Regions from separate parts of the Homo sapiens genome. Here region 1 is linked to region 2. Evidence: fine-mapped expression QTL. A gene starts in region 2. The other region holds a variant in brackets. All regions are shown on one strand. Distances are between the middles of the regions. Region 1 overlaps SLC4A1 (solute carrier family 4 member 1 (Diego blood group)). Region 2 holds the start of ATXN7L3-AS1 (ATXN7L3 antisense RNA 1).

What was found. PIP is the estimated chance that this variant, and not a neighbour inherited with it, causes the effect.
Region 1: its variant is fine-mapped to the expression of ATXN7L3-AS1 in whole blood (INTERVAL, PIP 0.97).

Annotation. Positions count from the first base shown.
Region 1 is chr17:44,253,887-44,261,886 of GRCh38, reverse strand. It overlaps SLC4A1 (solute carrier family 4 member 1 (Diego blood group)), which reads left to right. Exons shown (of 20, transcript NM_000342.4): 4 at 251-312; 5 at 1,072-1,252; 6 at 1,348-1,483; 7 at 1,955-2,078; 8 at 2,306-2,390; 9 at 2,543-2,724; 10 at 3,264-3,474; 11 at 3,707-3,901; 12 at 4,080-4,228; 13 at 4,343-4,537; 14 at 6,041-6,214; 15 at 6,591-6,680; 16 at 7,225-7,391. Among named protein-coding and RNA genes, the nearest start is that of SLC4A1, 10 kb to the left of the region's middle. RefSeq lists an enhancer at 3,857-4,813. The variant C/T (reference allele first, on the strand shown) is at 3,570.
Region 2 is chr17:44,195,498-44,204,008 of GRCh38, reverse strand. ATXN7L3-AS1 (ATXN7L3 antisense RNA 1) reads right to left here and starts at 5,169. Exons shown (of 2, transcript NR_184071.1): 1 at 5,079-5,169. It overlaps ATXN7L3 (ataxin 7 like 3), which reads left to right and starts at 4,125. Exons shown (of 13, transcript NM_001382309.1): 1 at 4,125-4,513; 2 at 5,879-5,989; 3 at 6,279-6,411; 4 at 6,610-6,781; 5 at 6,983-7,080; 6 at 7,591-7,613; 7 at 7,930-7,975; 8 at 8,181-8,209. The coding sequence starts at 5,939. RefSeq lists enhancers at 2,746-3,283, 3,284-3,822, 4,548-5,103, 5,454-5,748, 5,308-6,230 and 1 more and silencers at 3,477-4,276, 4,377-4,986.

The DNA.
Region 1 (8,000 bases), 58 kb before region 2:
CTCCCTGGCTGAATCCCGGGTGTCCTCGACAAGGCTCAGATAGGGAGCCCAAGGCTAGGCCCAGCACACAAGTGTGGGGAGCCTCATTCTGCTGAGTGGCCAGTGTGGGATGCGGCACCAGAGACCCAGCCCAGGGCACTGGGAAGGAGGGGCATCTGCCCATGCCTGGGTCTCTGAGGCTCACAGTGGATGGTGAAGAGCCTCAGGTGGGGGACGGTCAGGTCAATACTAACCGACCTCTGGTTTTCAGCTCACGACACCGAGGCAACAGCCACAGACTACCACACCACATCACACCCGGGTACCCACAAGGTGAGGACCCCAGCCTCCTCCGTTCTTTCCCATGCTGCCTTTGGGACCCACCATTTGATCAGGGAAGAGAGGAGCAAGGGGATAGAGGCAGCTTCAGGCTGGGGGAGACCCTGCAGCAGATAGAGGAGTGAGGATCCCAGGAAACAGGTGGGAGGGACGCCCCACTGATGGGGAGGCCTGGGCCCCTTTCCAGGAGCACCCTGGGCAGAGATAACCTGATTGACAAGGGCTGAGTCCCCAGGCCCTCAGGCCCTGGCTGGGCTGTCGGGCGTCACTGGGGAAGCACAGAATTAAAGACTTGTTCTCCTCTGCCCAGGCCCCTCAGGTCCCCACTGGGCACTGAACTGTCTAAGTGGTTAGAAATTTGGGGTGGCCCTCAGCTATGGCCCTTGGAGCAACCACCTGGCCTCAGGGACATGCTAAAGCACATCCACGAACAATCTTAGAGGCTGGAGACTGACCCAATGACTCCAAAGTCCCCTTTAGCTTCGGCCCGCCAGGCCTCTGCTTCCCACTCCTTTCCCTCCCCAGTGGCCTCTCCAGCATCCCTTTGGGTCAGGGTTCTCCAAATGCCTTCTGCAATGGGGTAAAGGCCTGGCCAGGAAGTTGGGAGATAAGGGAGTGGTGTGAGCCGTATCTACGGACCCTTGAGCACAGGGATCCAAGCCTCACAAGCACAAGCCTCTCTCGAGAGTGGCTGAGCACCCACTATGCCCTGGACTATGCCTGATGAACTAACTCAGGCGCATGGGGCCACAGGTCTATGTGGAGCTGCAGGAGCTGGTGATGGACGAAAAGAACCAGGAGCTGAGATGGATGGAGGCGGCGCGCTGGGTGCAACTGGAGGAGAACCTGGGGGAGAATGGGGCCTGGGGCCGCCCGCACCTCTCTCACCTCACCTTCTGGAGCCTCCTAGAGCTGCGTAGAGTCTTCACCAAGGGTGAGCCTCCTGGGCCCTTCTGGACCCCCTGCAGATGAGGATTGTTGTGGGGTGCTGTGGCCCAGCCTACCAGCTCACTCCTCCACTGCCTGCAGGTACTGTCCTCCTAGACCTGCAAGAGACCTCCCTGGCTGGAGTGGCCAACCAACTGCTAGACAGGTTTATCTTTGAAGACCAGATCCGGCCTCAGGACCGAGAGGAGCTGCTCCGGGCCCTGCTGCTTAAACACAGGTGCCCCTGCCTGCCAGGGCCTGGATTCCATATCCAGTGGGCCCACTTCCCCAGCCCACTTGCCCCAAGTTCTCCCCCGGGATCCAGGTGGCCCTACCCTCACCAGGCAGGGGCCCACTTTCCTCCACTATGGCTCCCATCTCTGACACCTTGAAAGGGGTGGCCATGTCCTATGCTCAGAGTTGGGGGCTGTTGGTCCCCAGGAGGGCAGACCTGCAAGGCCCTTTTCTGTAGCCACTCTTGATCCCGCCTCGTCATTCCAGAGGCCACCCACTTACATCTACAACGTCCTTGGAGAGGAGGCTCTGATTCTCCTTCCATCCCAGGGTCTCTCTGGTCTGGTCTGGGAAGTCCCAGATGTCTACCCTTGATGTCTACCCCAGTCCCTTGATGTTCGCCCTTGATCCCTCCCACCACTGATAGCTCAGCCTGAACAGCTTACTCAGCCCATGTCCCCTGTACGTCCTGCAGCCACGCTGGAGAGCTGGAGGCCCTGGGGGGTGTGAAGCCTGCAGTCCTGACACGCTCTGGGGATCCTTCACAGCCTCTGCTCCCCCAACACTCCTCACTGGAGACACAGCTCTTCTGTGAGCAGGTGAGTCAGTTACAGGGTCAGGGTCAGGGTCAGGGTGGGGCAAGGAGAGAGCTTTCTCAAACGCCAGCAGGGGTCCTGAAAAACCGACCACAAGCAGGGGACCAGAAGCACTCCTGTGCCCGGGGGGTGCCAGGAGAGTTGGGAAGCGAGAATGGGAAGGGGAGGATGCTCAGGTCTCCCAGGTCAGACTGGCCCGAGGACTCCCGTCACCACCCTCCTTCCCACAGGGAGATGGGGGCACAGAAGGGCACTCACCATCTGGAATTCTGGAAAAGATTCCCCCGGATTCAGAGGCCACGTTGGTGCTAGTGGGTAAGAACAGGCATCTCTACCCTCAGCCCTCCACACCCCTCGTGTCTTGGCTCAGCCTGTCTTTCCCTCAGCCTGGACCCCCGCAGCCCCATCTCTTCAGCACACCCACCCTGGGCTCCTCGGCCTGGCCTGATCTTCTCATCCCCTAACAGGCCGCGCCGACTTCCTGGAGCAGCCGGTGCTGGGCTTCGTGAGGCTGCAGGAGGCAGCGGAGCTGGAGGCGGTGGAGCTGCCGGTGCCTATACGCTTCCTCTTTGTGTTGCTGGGACCTGAGGCCCCCCACATCGATTACACCCAGCTTGGCCGGGCTGCTGCCACCCTCATGTCAGAGAGGGTAAGGAAGGGCCGGAGAGGGCTGGGCTGGGGAAGCTTGGGACCTGCATGGTGGCTGAGGCCTGCTCTCCAACCTGGCCTGGGTTACTTTAGGTTCACTGGTTTGACCCATTCAGCCTAATCCAGCTGCTGCTATCCTACCTGGCGGGGGCAGTCGGGGCGTGCAGTCTGGCCCTGCTCTGGCCTGGTCTCGTCTGGTTGGCTTTGGCCTGGCTTAGTCTAGTCCAGCTCACTATGACCTGGTTCCACCTGGTCAGGTCAGGCTTGGTCGGGCCTAGTCAGCTCTAGTTTCATCTAGTCTGCTTAACCCACCAGGTTAGCTTTAGTTCCTTCTCCTTTCCCCACCCAGGGCCCCCGTCTGTCTCCCCAGAGCTCTTTCTTAGTGGGGAGAGTAGGGGTGGGAGCGGGCAGGAAAAGCAGTTCCTGGCAATGGGAGCTGCTGCCTGAGGGGGTTCTGGTTCCTGGAGGCCCTGGCTGTGGACTCCTGGGTCCTTTCCCTCCGCAGGTCCGGGCAGCTCTGACCCTGTCTCCTGCCCCTAGGTGTTCCGCATAGATGCCTACATGGCTCAGAGCCGAGGGGAGCTGCTGCACTCCCTAGAGGGCTTCCTGGACTGCAGCCTAGTGCTGCCTCCCACCGATGCCCCCTCCGAGCAGGCACTGCTCAGTCTGGTGCCTGTGCAGAGGGAGCTACTTCGAAGGCGCTATCAGTCCAGCCCTGCCAAGCCAGACTCCAGCTTCTACAAGGGCCTAGGTACCTGCCCTTCCCAGCTGAGGCTTTCTGAGCCCCCACCGACCCCCAGACACCTCAGCGTAGCCTCTGTCTCCCATCACATGTTCCCCTCTCAT[C/T]GCTCCCTTTGCCCACATCTTCCAGACTTCTTCGCCGCCCCATTCCCATCAGACAATCTCCCCTACACCCTCCAGTCCCCTTTCCCCTCACCTCCTCCAGCTACTCCCTCTGACCATGCTCTTATCCTCCACCACAGACTTAAATGGGGGCCCAGATGACCCTCTGCAGCAGACAGGCCAGCTCTTCGGGGGCCTGGTGCGTGATATCCGGCGCCGCTACCCCTATTACCTGAGTGACATCACAGATGCATTCAGCCCCCAGGTCCTGGCTGCCGTCATCTTCATCTACTTTGCTGCACTGTCACCCGCCATCACCTTCGGCGGCCTCCTGGGTCAGTGCCAATACCTGTCTCCCTAACTCTTGCCTCTGACCCTCTGGCCTCTGTCTCAGCCCCAACTTCTGACTCTGTCTGACCCTCCAGACCCCTGCATCAGCCTGACCATGACTTGCTCTATGGGCTCCTGGAAATGATCTCCTGACCTTGATCCCACTGTGACCTCTACCCACAGGAGAAAAGACCCGGAACCAGATGGGAGTGTCGGAGCTGCTGATCTCCACTGCAGTGCAGGGCATTCTCTTCGCCCTGCTGGGGGCTCAGCCCCTGCTTGTGGTCGGCTTCTCAGGACCCCTGCTGGTGTTTGAGGAAGCCTTCTTCTCGGTAGTTCTGTCCTTGCCCCACTGACCCTGTCATGTCCCCCGCACCACCTGCCTGATGCATGGTGCCTTGCCCCAAGACCCTTTGACTGACCGGCTTCTTCTGACCACCCTGCAGTTCTGCGAGACCAACGGTCTAGAGTACATCGTGGGCCGCGTGTGGATCGGCTTCTGGCTCATCCTGCTGGTGGTGTTGGTGGTGGCCTTCGAGGGTAGCTTCCTGGTCCGCTTCATCTCCCGCTATACCCAGGAGATCTTCTCCTTCCTCATTTCCCTCATCTTCATCTATGAGACTTTCTCCAAGCTGATCAAGGTGGGGGCCTATGGGGATGTTAATGCACACGGGAGGTTGTGTATAAGACTGAGACAGTGGCCGGGTGCGAGGGCTCAGGCCTGTAATCTCAGAACTTTGGGAGGCCGAGGCAGGTGGATCACCCGAGATCAGGAGTTCAAGACCAGCCTGACCAACATTGTGAAACTCCATCTCTATTAAAAATACAAAAATCAGCCAGATGTGGTGGCATGCATCTGTAATCCCAGCTACTCAGGAGGCTGAGGCAGGAGAACTGCTTGAACCCGGGAGGTGGAGGTTGCAGTGAGCCGAGATTGTGCCACTACACTCCAGCCTGGGCAACAGAGCAAGAATCCGTCTCAAAAAAAAAAAAAAAAGACTGAGCCATTGTGTCCTCGCACATGTGTCTGTGCAGCATTTGTGTGTCTTTGCTTTCACCTGTGTACATAACCATGTGACTGTGCACATGACTGTGACAACATATGTGTCTGTGTCAACATATGTGTCTATGTCTGTGTAGTCACACATCTGCACACAGGACTGTGCAGCTGTGTTGACTGTGACCACATATGTGTTGGCACCTGCTGCCTGTGGCCAGCACTCTTGCTGAGGCATGAGAGGGTGCCTCTGTGTGCACATGTCCAGTTCATGACCACACATGACGTGAGCAATGGGTAGGTATGGGCATGACACTGAGCATGTGAAAGTACATGCACAGTGAGAGCTGGGGGGACTCTGGAGCCTCTGAAGTCCCCCACTCCCTCCCCTGTGCTTGTCCTCAAGAGCTGCAGGGCTTGTGGATGGAGTGCCCAGCCACCTTGGCTTGGCTCCCATCATCTTAAGCTCTGCTTGCCTTTGTACCTGCATTTTATATGGGAGAAGGGTGAGCCCTATGTGTTGTCCCCTGATTCTGTTGGATGGAGGGTCTTTCTGTGTCCAGGTCTTTTAACCCCTTGTTAGAAACTTCCCTGACCCTTGTTTCCTGACCTCCAGCCTTCTCATGTCTCCCAGGTCCTGGGTGTACATGTGTGCTCGCACACACACCCATTGCCTTCCATGGCCCTCCCTGCCTAAACCTAGGCTGTCTTCATTCCTGAAAACCAAGCTGTAGAATCCCATTTATCCTCTGTTTCCATGTCAATTGAGGAAGAAGATAGATGGATGGATGGATGAATAGATGGATAATGGATGGACGGATGGATGGATGGATGGATGGTTGGATGGATGGATGATTGATGAATGAGTGGGTGGATGATGGACGGATGAATGGATGGATAAATGGGTTGATAGATGATAGGTAGGTGGATGGATGGGTAGATGGATAATGAATGGATGGATGAATAATCAATGGATGATCAATGGATAATGGATAGATGAATGATGGATGGGTGGATAAATGGATGGATGATGAATTAATAGATGACTGGATGAATGGATAGTAGTGCTGGGTAGAGTTAGCTGGTGGTATTTTCCAGCCCAAGCCAAAGCTGGGAGAGAACAGAATGCCTTGGTTTTCTGCTGCAGATCTTCCAGGACCACCCACTACAGAAGACTTATAACTACAACGTGTTGATGGTGCCCAAACCTCAGGGCCCCCTGCCCAACACAGCCCTCCTCTCCCTTGTGCTCATGGCCGGTACCTTCTTCTTTGCCATGATGCTGCGCAAGTTCAAGAACAGCTCCTATTTCCCTGGCAAGGTCAGCATACCCTCCTCGCCTGTCCTTGCCAACACTGCCCTATCCCAGCCCAAAGCCCCCCCGCTCCAAATTCCTCAGTGCCCTTAGCTTCCCTTCTTTTTCAGATTCCCATTCCCAATTCCAACCTCCCCTGGCCCTATCCTTACCTAGGGTTTCACTCTATGGGCAAGCCCCTCCCACTTTCATGGCATGCCCAGCCTGAGAACTGCTGGGGGAAGAAGAAAGGAGGCAGACATAGCTGAGGTGCAGGACAGGGCATTAGATGCTGATGGATCCCCTGGAAGAGCAGGGCCCCGTGGGTGAATATAGGGCAGGAGGAAGGCAGGAGGTGGGGAGTGACTGGGCACTGACCACTGGTCCTTTCACCTGCCCCCAGCTGCGTCGGGTCATCGGGGACTTCGGGGTCCCCATCTCCATCCTGATCATGGTCCTGGTGGATTTCTTCATTCAGGATACCTACACCCAGGTGACCCCTCCTCCCAGCCCTCAGACCATGATACCCCCCAGGTCCTCATTTCCACCCCCCAGCATGCCCCTTCCCTAGAATAGCTTTCCCCAACCTGAAGCCAGCTGGGACTACCTCTACCCCATCCCTGCCTCCTCTGGGAGTCCCATGTGCTTCTCACAGCCCCAGAGGACCCCTGTGGCCAAAGCAAGGTGCTGGGCCAGGTTGCCACCTTCATTCCTTAACCCAGAGCAGTAGGAAGAAGTATTCTTTGGAGCCAGGCAGATCTAGGCATGAATCCCAGCTCTGCCATCAAATAGCTGTGTGATGTGGGGCAAGCTACATAACCTCTCTGATTCTCTTTCCTCATCTTTAAAGTGGGGAACGAGCAGATGGATGTAAAGGGATTAGTGTAATGATTAGGTACAGAGCAAGTGCTCAATATAAGTAAGTTCCCAAGTGCCTCCAACCTAACTGCCCGACCCCTAGGACCCTGGCTCCTCCTGCTCCCACCCTTCCCCATCCTCCTGCCCTTGGCATTCTTACCTGCTACCCCCTCCCACAGAAACTCTCGGTGCCTGATGGCTTCAAGGTGTCCAACTCCTCAGCCCGGGGCTGGGTCATCCACCCACTGGGCTTGCGTTCCGAGTTTCCCATCTGGATGATGTTTGCCTCCGCCCTGCCTGCTCTGCTGGTCTTCATCCTCATATTCCTGGAGTCTCAGATCACCACGTGAGAGACAGGGTGGGGGCTGGGCCTGGGAGGGTGGGAGGCAGGGACCTTTCCCTGGCATTCTCCCAGGCAGGCAAGAGACCCAGGACTGCAAGCTAGTCCCTGCGGGTGTGTGGCCCTCCCGACTAGCAGGAATAGTGAAAAGCCAGGGGCAGTTCCAGGTTTTGTGGGACCAGAAGTTGTATAATTTGGAGAGCTCTTTTTAAGAAAAAAAAAACGTGGCCGGGCGCGGTGGCTCACGCCCGTAATCCCAACAGTTTGAGAGGCCGAGGCGGGCAGATCACCTGAGGTCAGGAGTTCGAGACCAGCTTGGCTAACATGGTGAAGCCCTGTTTCTACTAAAAATACAAAAAATTAGGCGGGCATGGTGGCACGAGCCTGTAATCTCAGCTACTTGGGAGGCTGAGGCAGGAGAATCGCTTGAACCCGGGAGGCGGAGGTTGCAGTGAGCCGAGATCTCGCCATTGCACTCCAACTTGGGCAACGAGAGTGAAACTCCATCTCAAAAAAAAAAAAAAAAAAAAAGCGCCAGGTGAGGTGGCTCACATCTGTAATCCTAGCACTTTGGGAAGCCAAGACGGGGGGATCACGAGGTCAGTAGTTTGAGAC
Region 2 (8,511 bases):
ACCTAGACCTCTCCATTCCACTTCCTAAAGCTGTCTCAAATCTGTCGACCCCTCCCACAGGGTGGCTCCCACAGCTGCCACTCCCATCCTATTTCAGGCCACCATCATTGCTCAACTTCTGCAAAGACCTCCTAAAGCTGGTCTTCCTGCTTCCACTCTCGCCCCCTACAGCCCATTCTTCACATGGCAGCCAAAATTATCTCAGAAATAAATCTGATTATTTCTGTACTGAAAATTTACCATGTCTTACCATGGCCCTACAAGGCTTGGCCCCCGCATTCCTTCTCTTATCTTCTCTCACCCTGCTCTTCCTAACCACTTACAACGATCCAACCAAGTGATCTCTTCTGTTCCTCAAACATGCCTACCTGCGGGGTCTTGGCACCTGTTCTCTCTGCCTAGAATGGCTATTCCTCCAACTCTACACATACCTGATTTTTTTTTTTCATTCTTTAAGCCTCAACTCACATGTCCTCTCACAGAGAAGCCTTTCCCAACCACCTGCTCTAGAGAGGCCTCCTCCATCTTCTTGTTTATGTATTTGTTTATTATCTATCTCCCCAAGTAGAAGACACCTTATCTGCTTGTTCATTACAGTAATCTCAGCACCTGAAACTGCCTGATATACATTTGACAATCAAGAAAGATTTGCTGAGTGGGTGAATAGGTCTGGCCCACAAGGCCCTTGGGGATCTGCTGCCCCCGTTAGCCCTCCCCCGACTCTAGCCACACTGACCATTCATGTCTCGAACATAACATGCTCTCTCCTAGGGCCTATACACATGGTGTTCTCTCTGCCTAGTTAATTCTGGTCTCCACTTAAAAGACCACTTCCTTCCCTGAACTCCTGAGAAAAAAGGTCTCCACACTATACGTTTCTTCAGCAGCCTGAATGCCTTCACACTCAGGCCTTATTTCCTTCACATCAGGCCTTGCTAGGCTGTAAGCTGCGCTAGGACAAGGTTTGTGTGTCTCTCTTGCTTGTTGCTGTAACCCCAGGGCCTCACCCAGAGTCAGGACCAGCTCAGGCCTTAGTGTTTATGAACTGGTGCTAACTGTGGAGACTGGGCACGTGCCCAAAGAGGTCACCACCACAGAGCAGCCCAGGCCAAGCACAGAATGAATAGTACAGTCTAGTTGTAAAGAAGTTTGGTATGAGGATGGCCATGGGTGGGGATATGAGGAAGGATTTAGGTAAACAGGGAGAAGCCAGGAGGATTTTCTGGCCATGGCGCAAATTCCTTAGGGCAGAATGTACTGGGCATATTTAGGTAAGAAACAGATCAGCATCACTGGAGTGAAGAATTCCTGAAAAGGAGGCGGGAGATAAGAGAAAACAAAGGTTGAGGCGATGTTGTTGAAGTTCCTGAAGACCTAGCTTACTTCTCTGTGCCAGACCTGAGTTCAACCACCTTTTGGGTCTCCATCAGCTGATCCCACAGTAACCTCAATATATCCCAGACTGAAGTCATCCTGTGTCCTCCCATGTCCTCCCCTGAGTTCCCCATCCTAGTAAAGGTGTTTTCAAGACCTCCCTCTCCTTTCCTCCACACACCTCAATCAGTAACAAAAACCTACTGCTTTTGCCAGGCCCAGTGGTTTATGCCTGTAATCCCAGCATTTGGGAGGCTGAGGCAGGCGGATCTCCTGAGGTCAGAAGTTCGAGACCAGCCTGGCCAACATGGTGCAACCCTGTCTGTACTAAAAATACAAAACTAAAATTAGCCGAGCGTGGTGGCGTGCGCCAGTAATCCCAGCTATTCAGGAGGCTGAGGCATGAGAATCACTTGAACCCGGGACGCAGAAGTTGCCGTGAGCTGAGATTGCACCTGAGTGACAGAGCAAAATGCTGTCTAAAAAAACAAAACAAAACAAAACAAAAAACCTACTGCTTCTAAATTATTCTCCAGACCATACTCCAGCATGATCCACTAAAAATATAAGTCTGGTGAATGATTCCCCTTGAGGACTCCTCACAGCTTACAGGCTAAAGCCCACAAACTTTTCAACACCTACTTTGCTTTGTCCTGTATTATCCAGCCTGCTCACCTCCTGCTGCTCTGCCACCCACTCCTCTGTTCCAGCTTGATCCATGCTTCTGAAGCTTCCAGTTGGGGATGTCCAATGCCTTCTTGGCCTACCTTCACCTGGTTCATCTCCCTCTATAAGAAGTTTTTCTTTTTCTTCTTTTTTGTTTTGTTTTGAGACGGAGTCTCGCTCAGTTGCCCAGGCTGGAGTGCAGTGGCGCAATCTCAGCTCACTGCAACCTCCGCCTCCCGGGTTCAAGCGATTCTCCTGCCCAAGCCTCCCGAGTAGCTGGATTACTACTATTGCCTAAGCCTCCCGAGTAGCTCCTGGGATTACAGGAGCCCGCCACCACGCCCAGCTAATTTTTGCATTTTTGCAGGCTGGTCTCGAACTCCTGGCCTCCCAAAGTGCTGGGATTACAGGCCTGGGCCACCGCACCCTGCCCAAGAAGCCTTTCTTGACCAACTCTCTTACATCATTTGATGTCTCCTTTTGTCTACCTCTGTTTTCTCTCTGTTGTTTTCCTCACACTGTTTTGCAATTATTATCCTACCTATCTATCCACAAGACAGTGAACTTCTTGAAGAAGCACAACTGTCTTATATCATCTTTTATCCCAGCACCTGGAGCACCGTGAGAATAACAGCTAAGATTTACCAAGCACTTACACAGAGCTAAGAGTTTCACATGCACTGACTTGTTAATCACTACAGCAACGCAAGGAGATAGGACTATCATTATGCCCACTGACAACAGAGGAAACTGAGGCACAGGAAACTCATTTGCTAGGCCCAACGATTTAAATTCAAATCAGACGCCTGATCTGAACTACTCTGGAATATCGCCTCAATAAATGTTTGCTGTTTCTCGGGAGAAATCGGTGAGAAAAAAATAAGTATTTGCTGAAAACTAAAAACCAAAGATGGCTCCAAGTATGTGATTACAGACTATCCTCCTTTTTAATCTTATCTCTTGAGGGGAGAGGGCTGTCACACAACCGTTCCAGGACACCACACACAGAGTAACCGAGATGAAAGCGCCAATCCAGCCATCCACCGCGGCTGGGAAAAGGCCTGTCCCTTCCTAAGGTAAAGAGGGACTGAGAGCGTGAGCACAGGGACACGCTGCACCCAGGGGAACAGCACTGGGTCGGGGGAAGGATCTGGCCAGTGACAAGGAGGCTGTCTGGAGGGGTGGGGGTCCAGCGTGGGTTCCGGAAGCAGGAAAGGCGAGCAGGTGTGGGATCTAAATTAGGACGAGGGGCGGGGAGGGCGCTCCGCGCAGAAGGGCGCAGCTCGGCCTCCGACCTCAGCAGCGGACCCTCATCTCGGCCGCTTGTTGGTCCGCAAGCCTGGAGTGGGCTGAGACCCGCCCAGAAACCGGGAGAACTGAGGCGCGGGCGAGCCCCTTAGGCTCCACAGGCTTTCCGCCCCGAGGTCCTAACTGCGCCCCACTTCAAGTCTGGCCTCTTCACAGAAGTGGCTGCACGCCTCGGGGTAAAGGGGGGAGCGGAGGGTGGCGGGGGAGAGAGCGGGGAGCCCCGAGGGAAGGGCGGGGGAGCCTGGGCCGGAAGGCGTCCCAGGCTCGGCTGGCAGCCGGCGCTCTCTTTCGACGCCACCCGCTGCCCCCGCCCCCGAGCCGGCCGGGACGGCAAAACGTCTCCGCCCCCAGCGCACCGCGCACCTCACCTTGAACGCCGCCCCACCCACCCCCATCTTATTGGTCCTCCCGGGCCGAGGCCTCCCTGCGATTGGTCGGGGAGGTCCGCGAAGGCCCCGCCCATCTCTCCGCCCCCGTCCCCGTCCGCCGGTACTTTGGACGGCGGCGTGGCGCCCCTCCTCCCCTCCCGGTCCCCGCCCCCTGGAGCAAATGCTGCCGAGCTGCGGCCGCGGGGCAGATGCACGCGCTCGGGCCCTTCTAGCAGGCGCGAGCAGTCGCTGGGCGCGCGAAAGCGAAAGAAGGAAGAGGAAGGGAGGGGGAGGGCGGGGTGTTGGGGAGGGGCGGGAGGAGGAAGAGGAGGAGGTTGGAGCGCGCTCGCGCTTGGCCTCGCGCCCGCGCAGAGGGAGGGGGAGAGGGGCGCGCGCGCGCACGCTCGCGTTCACGCTCGCTCCATCCATCCATCCTCCGGTCGCGGCACACGCGCGCGCGCTCCGGGCTCGCGCCGCACCCCCCGCCCGGGAGAGGCGGGCTGGAGTGGGGGGCGGGGGGAGGGGCGCGCGGACGGCGCGCGGACTGCGCGCGGGCGGGGTGAGGTGAGGAGGAGGAGGCGGCGACGGGACAAGAAGGGAGGGGAAGGGGCCATGGCCGCCCGGTGAGGCGGCCAGGCGGGGGGGCGGCCCGACCCCCCGGCCCCGGGCCCTGGGCCCCGGGGAGAGGCGAGGACGGACCGACGGACATGGGGCTCCGGAGCAGCCGCCGCCGTCGCCGCCGCCGGAGGACGCGGCCCTGAGAGGCTGCCGGGCCCCGGCGCGGCCCCCCGGGCGGGGTGAGTACGGGACGGAGACGGGGACGGGGACGGGGGAGGGGCCTGTGGGGGGCGGGGGGCGGGGCCCAAGGCGGGGCTTGGGCCCCCTCCCCCCAGGTCTGGGTCAGCGCCCCTTCCCCTCCCCCCGGGCCGACGCGGAAACGCCCGGCTTCCCCCAGCTTCCCGGCCGGGCCGGGGCCCCTGGCTCTCCCCCGTCTGGGTCCCCCTTGGGCGGGGCAGGGCCGGCCGGGGAGGGGGCGCGGGGCCTTTGTTAGGGAGCCAGGCCCCAGCCCCCGGGACAATAGAGACACCCTCCCGGACTCCTCTCCCCGGCCGGCCGGGGCTGCTGGCGGGCGGGGAAGGAGAGGGGCTGGGACGCGTCCCACTCTCTGGGGGTCGGTCTGTCCCGGCCCGGCGCCGGCCCCGGCGGCTCGGCTGTCCTCCCCCCAGTCGGTATGATGCAGCAGCAGTGCCGCAGGGACGGGGGAAGAGCCGAGGCCCGGCCTCCTACCCTTCCCAGTGCCCCCGGCTCATTCGTCAGTCCCCACCCCACTCTAGGCCGGCAGCTCCTGAAACTCGTACCCACCGTTCCGAGGGGCCCTGGGTTGTGGGTTCTGTGTCTGAATCCTTGGGTGGGGGTTCCTGGACTTTGGGGCTCTTGGAGAGACTTCCGGGCTGGTCCTGAGGGAGGGCGGGTGGTTATTTAAAGGAAGAACAGGTAAGGGGAGTGCCCGCTCCTGGCGTGCCACCCTACCAGGCTCTTCCCCCCCACCCCCCGCCGTTCCTGCTCATGGTGGCTAGAAATGTCCCTTAGCTCTAGGCTCCTGTGGGCTCTGCTCCCCTCGTGGAGTGGCAGGCTGATTTCAAGGGAAGACAGAGTGGGGTGAAGGTTGTAGGGTCCTAGGGCCATTTCTACTTCTGGTAGCAGTACCCCCCCAAGTGGACATCCTGGCTGAAAGCAGAGGTGACTCTGAGGAGAGTCTTTAGGGAAGGCGGGGGGTGTATTTAGGAGTCTGTGCAGTTCTTTGCCACACCCTGTGGGTTTGCTTTGAGGCCTTGGAGTTCCTTCTCCTCCCCCTGCTGCATTGCACCATGGGTATCAAAGAGGGGTTTGAGTTTTGGGGACCTAGGGTGAGCTGCTGCCTCCTATAGACCCAGACTCTGATTGGCAGTGGAGTCCAGGGCCTGAGCTCAGGCCTGGGAAAGACTAGGCCCCCTTTAGGTTTCAGGCCTTGAAGGACCATCCAGACTTAGGGAGCCTGGGCCTTGGGGAGGGAGAGACCCTGATGCCAGGACTGAGCTTTGGGCAGCGAGGTGGGGAGGGAAGGTGGCCGCATTCAGAGGTGCCTTGGACTCACAACAACACCCCCACCCCCGTGTGTGCAGCCGTGTTGCCGCCCGCTGTGCTATGAGCAGTCAGAGCGCCGTCTCCACAAGAGTTTACAAATGAAAATGGAGGAAATGTCTTTGTCTGGCCTGGATAACAGCAAACTAGAGGTGAGGGCTCCCCCACGTGTGCCTCCAGTTCTTTCTCTTGATGTCTCTACGTCGCTGTATCTGGCATCCACACCAAAGAGGAATTTGGGTAGTCAGCCTTGTTCCTTAAAGGGAATAGCCAGCTGAAAAAGCCAAGGATCCAGGAAGAAGAAAGAACACGAAGTCAAGATGGGGAAAATGGCAAAGAAAGCATGATTTTTGGCTGGGGCCAGTTGGCAGCAGATTTGGTTGGTGAGAGTCCAGGGGGCTGTGACTCTTGTGACCGTAGATGTTCTCCCCTGGGGCCCAGGCCATCGCTCAGGAGATATACGCGGACCTGGTCGAGGATTCTTGTTTGGGATTCTGCTTTGAGGTACACCGGGCTGTCAAGTGTGGCTACTTCTTCTTGGACGACACGGACCCTGATAGCATGAAGGATTTTGGTGAGCTTCAGGGTGAAGGAGCAGCAGTCCAGCCCTTCCCTGGGACTGCCTGGAGTTTCCTTCTCTGGAAACTGTGCTAGATGTAGCACCTGGAGCTCCTGTGAGCCGGGGGAGGGATTGAAGAGGCCGTGGGACCCCAGGTGGGAACAAGAGGAGAGGGTCCTGCCCACCCTGATCGCCAGCCTCTCCTGTCCCCAGAGATCGTGGACCAGCCGGGCTTGGACATCTTTGGACAGGTTTTCAACCAGTGGAAGAGCAAGGAGTGTGTTTGCCCCAATTGCAGTCGCAGCATTGCCGCCTCCCGCTTTGCTCCCCATCTGGAGAAGTGCCTGGGAATGGGTCGGAACAGCAGCCGAATCGCCAACCGCCGGTGAGGGAACCAGAGCTGCCCGTTCTCTGCAGCCTGTGCCATGGTGTAGTCCCCCGGGGGCATTGGGAAGGTACAGAGGGTGGGTTTTACTTGGCCCCAGATGCTCCACCTGCTTCTGAAGTTGGGGGCAGAGCGGGGTGACCACCTTGACCCCTTTCTCTTCCTTCCCCTTGGCCCCTTTCTCTTCCCTCCCCTTGGCAGGATTGCCAATAGCAACAATATGAATAAGTCTGAGAGTGACCAAGAAGATAATGATGACATCAATGACAACGACTGGTCCTATGGCTCGGAGAAGAAAGGTGCTTGGGGATCTGGGGAAACCCGGGGGGCATTGGGATGAGGTGGGAAGCAGGAATTGGGTATACAGTGGTCACAAATTGTTGCCTTGAATGATGAAGAGAGAGTGTAGTTACGCGATTTCCTTTTCCTTTTTTTTTTTTTTTTTTTTTTGAGATGGATTCTCGCTCTGTGGCCCAGGCTGGGGTGCAGTGGTGAGATCTCGGCTCACTGCAACCTCCGTCTCCCGGGTTCAAGCGATTCTCCTGTGTCAGCCTCCTGAGTAGCTGGGATTACAGTCGCGTGCTACCATGCCCAGCTAATTTTTGTATTTTTAGTAGAGATGGGGTTTCACCATATTGGCCAGGATGGTCTCGATCTTCTGACCTCGTGATCTGCCCGCCTGGGCCTCCCAAAGTGCTGGGATTACAGGCATGAGCCACCGTGCCCAGCCTGTTGTATGGTTTTCTTGAGATGCTTTTAGATTGAGAACTTAACGGAAACCCTGCTCTTTATGCTTTTGTTTCCCACAGCCAAGAAGAGAAAGTCAGACAAGGTGAGAGCCGGGCCAGGCATTGGGGAAATAATGGGTAAAGGACAGATACCCTCCCCTTTGGGCAGGGAGTCCTCGAGTGTCATGACTCAAGGCTGAGGTCATTGGGGGCTTGAGGGTGTCTTTGGTGGGTCCGGGGCGGGGGAGTGTGGGTGGGGAAGGGGGGTGGGGGAGGGCACATGGGTAGACAGGCCTCCTACTGGGGAGGAAGAGTAGGAATTTGAGGATGCTGCTTTGTCAAATCTTTTTTCCTTCCCTGGGTTCTCGGCTCCCCCTTTTCGTTACCCTTTCCCCAAAGCTATGGTATCTCCCATTCCAGAACCCCAATTCCCCTCGAAGATCCAAGTCATTAAAACACAAAAATGGTAAGTGGAGCCGGAGCAATGGGAATGCTTCTAGCTGTGTCTTCTGGGACTCATTGCCGGGGGGTGGAGGTGGGGCCCGGGGATAGGGGAATTGAGGGAGGGCCTGTGATCCTTCTGTCACCCCCACTTCCTCTCTGGTTATTTTCAGGGTTCTCTGTCTGTACCTCTGCATCAAACACCCTTCCCCTTCTTTTTTCTTCTTCAGGGGAACTTAGCAATTCGGATCCTTTTAAGGTGAGTATGGGCCGCCCCTCATGCTTGCTCTCATTGTCCTGGTTGTGAGGTGGTGGGGATTTGGACAAGTAGGGATCAGAATGCTGACAGCCAGAGGCACTGATGAGCTATTTGGATCTTACATATTTATGTTCTTTCTGAGTCCCACCCCTTATCCATTGGCAGATGGGATGAGAGAAATCACTTGGAAAACGGCAGGGTCGTTCTAAAGCCTCACTTAGAAAGGGACCAGAGGGACTGATTCTCACTTCCACCCCTGTCCTTCTCTTTTCTCTGCCCCATCTCTAACCTGTACCTCTGGT